Homo sapiens: one gene and its partner. The protein of the gene in region 2 purifies or fractionates together with the protein of the main gene of each other region. This does not show direct contact. Each region holds a gene or a part of one and is shown on either strand. Other genes may lie near its edges.

Evidence for each region. Proteins that work in one complex are often made in the same cells at the same time.
Region 1: the proteins of WDR81 (region 2) and CIB2 purify together in Homo sapiens (co-immunoprecipitation; one large-scale study listed by IntAct). This does not show direct contact.

What each region holds. Positions count from the first base shown.
Region 1 is NC_000015.10:78,107,446-78,110,945, forward strand, and holds part of CIB2 (calcium and integrin-binding family member 2), read right to left. Parts: intron 2,065-3,500; coding exon of another isoform or gene 1,938-2,064; coding exon 1,790-1,937; intron 1-1,789. UniProt on the Homo sapiens protein: Calcium- and integrin-binding protein that plays a role in intracellular calcium homeostasis. Acts as an auxiliary subunit of the sensory mechanoelectrical transduction (MET) channel in hair cells.
Region 2 is NC_000017.11:1,736,895-1,739,085, reverse strand, and holds the end of WDR81 (WD repeat-containing protein 81), read right to left. Parts: intron 1,722-2,191; coding exon 1,401-1,721; 3' UTR 501-1,400; downstream 1-500. UniProt on the Homo sapiens protein: Functions as a negative regulator of the PI3 kinase/PI3K activity associated with endosomal membranes via BECN1, a core subunit of the PI3K complex.

The DNA of each region.
Region 1 (3,500 bases), on a different chromosome or scaffold from region 2:
GGCTGGCTGGCTGAATTCCTGTGGCCATTTAACCTGAGTAAACTGAGGCTCAGAAGTGAGATGATCATTGTTGCAAATGAGGCCCCAGGCCTCCCCAGCGCCAGACTAGGAGGGCCCTGGCTGCCTCTCCCCACTCCACCCCCAGCCTAGAGCAGCAAGGAAGCCACAGTTCTTCCATGTATTCCTGTGCCCACCCGGTCCATGCGATCTGCACGCCCCTGTCTTGGGCAGACAGCAGCCCGTCCCAGGAGCAATGCTATGGGGTCCAAGACCGGGCGGATGTTGGGTGGAATCTGAGAAGCTTTTTACATGAGCCATGTGGGCATAGTTTGTGGAGGGCAGACTGGCAGGTATTTTCTTTCTAATATGCAAGCAAAACGTGGGTGCACAGACAGAAACCAAAGTCCTCTGAAATAAACATGATAACTAGAAAGTGAAACGTCAGTCTGGGCGTGGTGGCTCACACCTGTAATCACAGCACTTTGGGAGGCCAAGGCAGGCAGATCACCTGAGGTCGGGAGTTCGAGACCAGCCTGACCAACATGGTGAAACCCCATCTCTACTAAAATTACAAAAATTAGCCAGGTGTAGTGGCGGGCACCTGTAATCTCAGCTACTCAGGAGGCTGAGGCAGGAGAATCGTTTGAACTTGGGAGGCTGAGGCAAGAGAATCGCTTGAACCCGGGAGGCAGAGGTTGCAGTGAGCCGAGATCACACGATTGCACTCCAGCCTGGGCGACAGTGGGACTCTGTCTCAAAAAAAAAAAAAAAAAAGAAAAGAAAAGAAAAAAGAAAGCAAAATGTCAGCCCCTGATAGGCCCTGCTGCCTTTGGGATCCAGTGTCTGATCAAACGTGCTGAGGACAGGAGCTTTGACCTTGACTCTTCAGGTCCAAGTTGGGTCCCAGCCCCTTCCTAGGCCTTAGGCATCTCAACTGAGGTCTATCTGAGGATTTGACACCAGTCCCCATGGGTCTGTCAGGCCAGCAGAGGGGGTGAGCTCGTGGGTATGAAGTTTTCTCCCTGTGGCTGTGGGAGAAGCATGAGTCCTTGGCTCATGAGTGCCCGCCGCCCTCTGGTGGCTGGTGAGACAGCCAGCCTGAGGGCAGAGCTGGGCGGGGTGAATCCAGGTGGCCCTACCTCAGGCAGTATTCGGGGGGGCTCCAGAGGCCCCCCTGCAGGCCTGGCCTTACCACCATGGCCTAGGCAGCCTCTCTGGCTCCTCCATTTTACACCTCAAAGCTGCTGAGTGATCCTTCTAGAAAACAGAGCTGCCCTTCCTCACTGGAAACCTTGCAGTGGCCCTGGTGTCTGGATCACTAGGTCCAAACTCTGTGGCTGGCTCCCACAGCCTGGCCCCAGATTCTCTCCAGACTCATACCGCCCCCTGTCCCACCACCTTCCAAGTTCCTCCCATCTCCTTATCAAGCTCTGCGCTTCCCTGTGTCTGCATGGGCTGCGCCCTCTGTCAGGTCTGCCAGCCCCCTCTTCTCCAGTCCAAGCCTCTGCTAGTCCCTGCTTAAAGGTCATGCCTGGGACCCCTCTCACACTAACCACCCGACCTGGGATGGGTGAGTCCCTCCCTCCTTCGTTCTCAGGACCCTCACAGATGTCTCTCAGGGACTGATCGTCTCCCTTGGCCACCCCACTGGACAGGCACTCTTCAGAGGACAGATCAGCTTCACTGTTCTTGGTGTCCCTAGGGCAGGAGCCAGTAGTAACCAGACAGCCTAAGGGCCCCACATGTTCCCCCACCGCATATTCAGGCCCCCTCCTCTAGCCCTGGTTACCATAGATCTTGAAGGCATAGTTTGCCTTGAGCTCTCGGGGAGCCGACTCGCAGAGCACGGAAAACATGTCCACAAAGTCGTTGAAAGTGAGGTTCCCCTCACCATCCTCGGAAAACGCCGCCACGATCCTTTCTTTGAAGGGATTCTCCTGAAGAAAACACACACAGCAATCACTGTGGGTGCAGGATAAGCAGGAGGGCCCCGGAGCCAGACTGTGGACAGCCTGTGTGACCCTGGAGGAGTGACCAAATCCCTCTGAGCCTCGGTTTCCCCATCTGTAAAAAGGGAATAATAATAACACCTTCTTAATTGGGTTGTGATGGGATTAAATGAGCTAAAGTATGTAAGGTGTTGGTACCAGGCCCGGCACATGTAAGAGCTCAGGAAGCATTCTACTGGGTCATGTCACATCATTAAGATGGGCACAGCCAGGGACAGTGGTGCACGCCTGTAGTCCCGCTATTTGGGAGACTGAGGTGGAGGAATCACTTGAGCCCAGGAGTTTGAGGCTTCAGTGAGCCATGATCGTCCCACTGCACTCCAGCCTGGGCGACAGAGCAAGACCATGTCTCCAAAAAAAAAAAAAAAAAAAAATGCTGAGCACAGCCAGTGTGTTATCACTGGAGGCACTGCCTCATCTGAAGCAGAAGCAGAAGCACAGATTCGTCCTGTTACCCAGAAGAGCACACAGAGGCTCTGCCTGGATGTGTAGGGCTCTGTCCCCAGCAGAAGAAGATGACAGCCCAGGGCACTGGTGGCCCTCAGCTCAGGCCGTGTCAGGCCAGGATCGTGGGAGGTGGATGTGGGGTCAGATAACTGGACCAGTCAAGCAGCAAGAGCCATACAGCCAGTTCAGGCCCAGGTCTGCTGTCACTCTGCTCCTGTGAATTCTCCCCTAGACCACCTTGGATGCTGCCTCTCCCAGGGAGCTGTACACGGATGCCTTCCTAGATCCCCAAATCACTCATCCTGCAGCCCTTCCATCCCAACTGAGCTAGCGCTTGGCTAGCGCCATTCCGTGCCCAGCCCAGGCCAGTGCGGGAGGCTCAGAGACAGACCACTTGGGTCCTACCCATGAGTGTCTCACCTGCTCCAGCAACCCTCTGAGCTTGCTCTTGAGCCCCTTGCTGGGCCAGACGGGGTGCTGGTCCAGGGCTGAGCCTGGGGCCCATTGTCTCTCAGGACTGAGGTCACAACCAGAGTGCAGGCCCCAAGTGGATGCCATATAGCACTCTGACTCCACCTTCAAGCCACACATCCCAGGCCTGGCAAGGGGCTACTGACGAAGTCCCACTGCAATGGGGAGTTGTGCCCCAAATGCCTTCTTAATGCTGAATGCACTTTACATATTATGGATAAGGAACTCATGAAACGAAACATTCAGATATATATGGTCTGAGGATCAGCAGCATCAGTCTCACCTGGGAACTTGCTCGAAAAGCAGAATCCTGACTCTACTCCACATGTACTGAGCCTGAATTGGCATTTGGACAAGATCCCTGGGGAGTTTAAAATTAAATTTTAACAGGTACGTTAAAGTCTGAGAAATGATGCTATGGATGACCACCATGCTGACCTCAGTGAGAAGCCACAGCCAGACAACGGGGAGACAGAAAAGTTATCTAACAAAGCAGACACAGGTCTGCCAACTACAGCAGGCTTGGGGCCACTTAACAAAGGGACAAGCAAATGAGCACAAGCCCATGGCCTG
Region 2 (2,191 bases):
CCCACCCTCACTGTCCTGCGCCTCACTCCCTGCATCAGGCTCCTTCCCACCCTCACTGTCCTGCGCCTCACTCCCTGCATCAGGCTCCTTCCCACCCTCACTGTCCTGCGCCTCACTCCCTGCATCAGGCTCCTTCCCACCCTCACTGTCCTGCGCCTCACTCCCTGCATCAGGCTCCTTCCCACCCTCACTGTCCTGCGCCTCACTCCCTGCATCAGGCCGCCTCCTACCCTCACTGTCCTGCTCCTCACTCCCTCCATCAGGCCCCTTCCCACCCTCACTGTCCTGGAAACTGCTGGGTCTCGACTTTCCCCACCCTGACACCACCAGCAAGATAAGCCTCAGGCTGGGCGTGGTGGCTCATGCCTGTAATCCCAACACTTTGGGAGGCCGAGGCAGGAGGATCGCTTGAGCCCAGGAGTTGGAGACCAGCTTGGGCAACATAGTCAGACTCCATCTCTATTGAAAAAAAAAAAAAAGACAAGCCTCAGTTCACCCCATGGCTCTTCCAAAGGATTTATTGGTCCTATTTACATCTATTGCAAATTGTGAGAAGGCAGCAGGGGCCAACCCCTGGACCTCATCTCTGTCTAGAATGTGAGGTCGCAGGGATGCTTAAGTCTTCCTCTGGCAGAGACCCGAGGTGCAGAGATGATTCTTCTCACCCCTTCTCTCAGGGTCGTGGAGCCCCAGCAGGGGTTCAGGGCCCAGAGGCTGCCCCCTCAGCTGAAGGCACAAACACTGTGGTAGGGGTGGGCAGACAACGCATGGACTCACTCCTGGCAGGCGCCACTGGCCAAGTGCACCTTTTCCCCCTGCTCCTAGCCTCCTTCTTCCTTCCCGTCCCGGTCCCACACTGGCCAGGGCCTGGATGGGTGGCCACTTAAACCCCAGACCCAAGCCCTTAACTCCTGGACCACGGCCAGCCTTCCTTAGGCTGGAATCCAAGCACCATCAGTGCCCTGGACCAGGCCAGCTTCCCTGTCCTAGAGGGATGGGACAGAGAGTGCCCAGCGGGGGCTGAGGGGCTAGAGACCGGCTGGGCAGGGCCAGTCTCCCTTCCCCTTCCCGAGCTTCCCTGTCCTCATGTGGACCCAGAGGGCAGAGCTGGGGAGAAGTGAAGGTAGCAACGCTTCCTCCTGCTCTTAACTTCCTGCTTGCTAGGAGCCCTGTGTCCCCAAGCCATGAATGAGACCCCTCTGGCAGGCTTGGTGGCTCTGGTGATTCAGGGGCCAGGACTCCCCCACTCCATTTGCAGGCCCTAGTTGGCAGGCCATGTGGGCACCCAGGGCGTGGGACCCAGGGCCTCCCTGGAGGGAGCTGCTGCTCAGGGAACAGGGTGAGTGGACACGCGCCCGCAGATGTCTTCCCACCCTTGCCCGGCCAGCTCCTGCCTCAGTCTATGCCAGGAGGCGGATAACCCCGTTGTCTGAGCCCAGCAGGAGGTGGCGTTTAGTGGGCAGCAAGGCCAGGCTGGTGAGCGTGCCGCGGAAGTTCTCAGAGCTGAGCTTCGTGGTGGCCTGCGAGGGTGGCTCAAGCAGGGAGCAGACGCCAATCTTGTTGGACACGGTGCCAGTGACCACCTCGCTGCCGTACAGGTCAAAGGTGTGGATGGGGTCGGATGCTGACTTGTAGTGATGGGTGGGCTTCTGCTCCAGCTCCTTCCAGACGGTCAAGGAATGGTCAGAGGAGGAGCTGACCAGGACGCTGCCCTCCACCGCCTGTCCCGGGAGAGGAGAGCCTCAGCAGGAGCCTGGGTCCTTCTGCATACCCTTGGGCCCCAAGGCCTTCCCAGTTCCCTCCGCAGTTTCTCTCCAGGGAGACAGGCCGTCCTGGGTGGGTGACAAGCCGCCACCCTCCCACACACACCATATTCACGTTGGTTCATTTTAATACGCTCAGCATCCGTAACCCAGTCGTCACTCTAACTTGAGAACTACGCACAGGCATGGTGCCAGGCGTGCACGTGACGACCTTGACCTTCGTAACAACCCTATGCGGTGGATGCTGCCATTGTCCCCATTTCACAAACAGGAAAAGTGAGGCTCAGAGAAGTGAAGTAACCATACCAAGGTCATGGGGCCAGCAAGCAGCAGAGCTGGGATTAACACCCAGGCTGACCCCAGAGCCCTCCTGACACTTTCTTGGAAAGTTAGAATTTGGGGGCACCTTGAGCTGAGGGTTCCCTGGG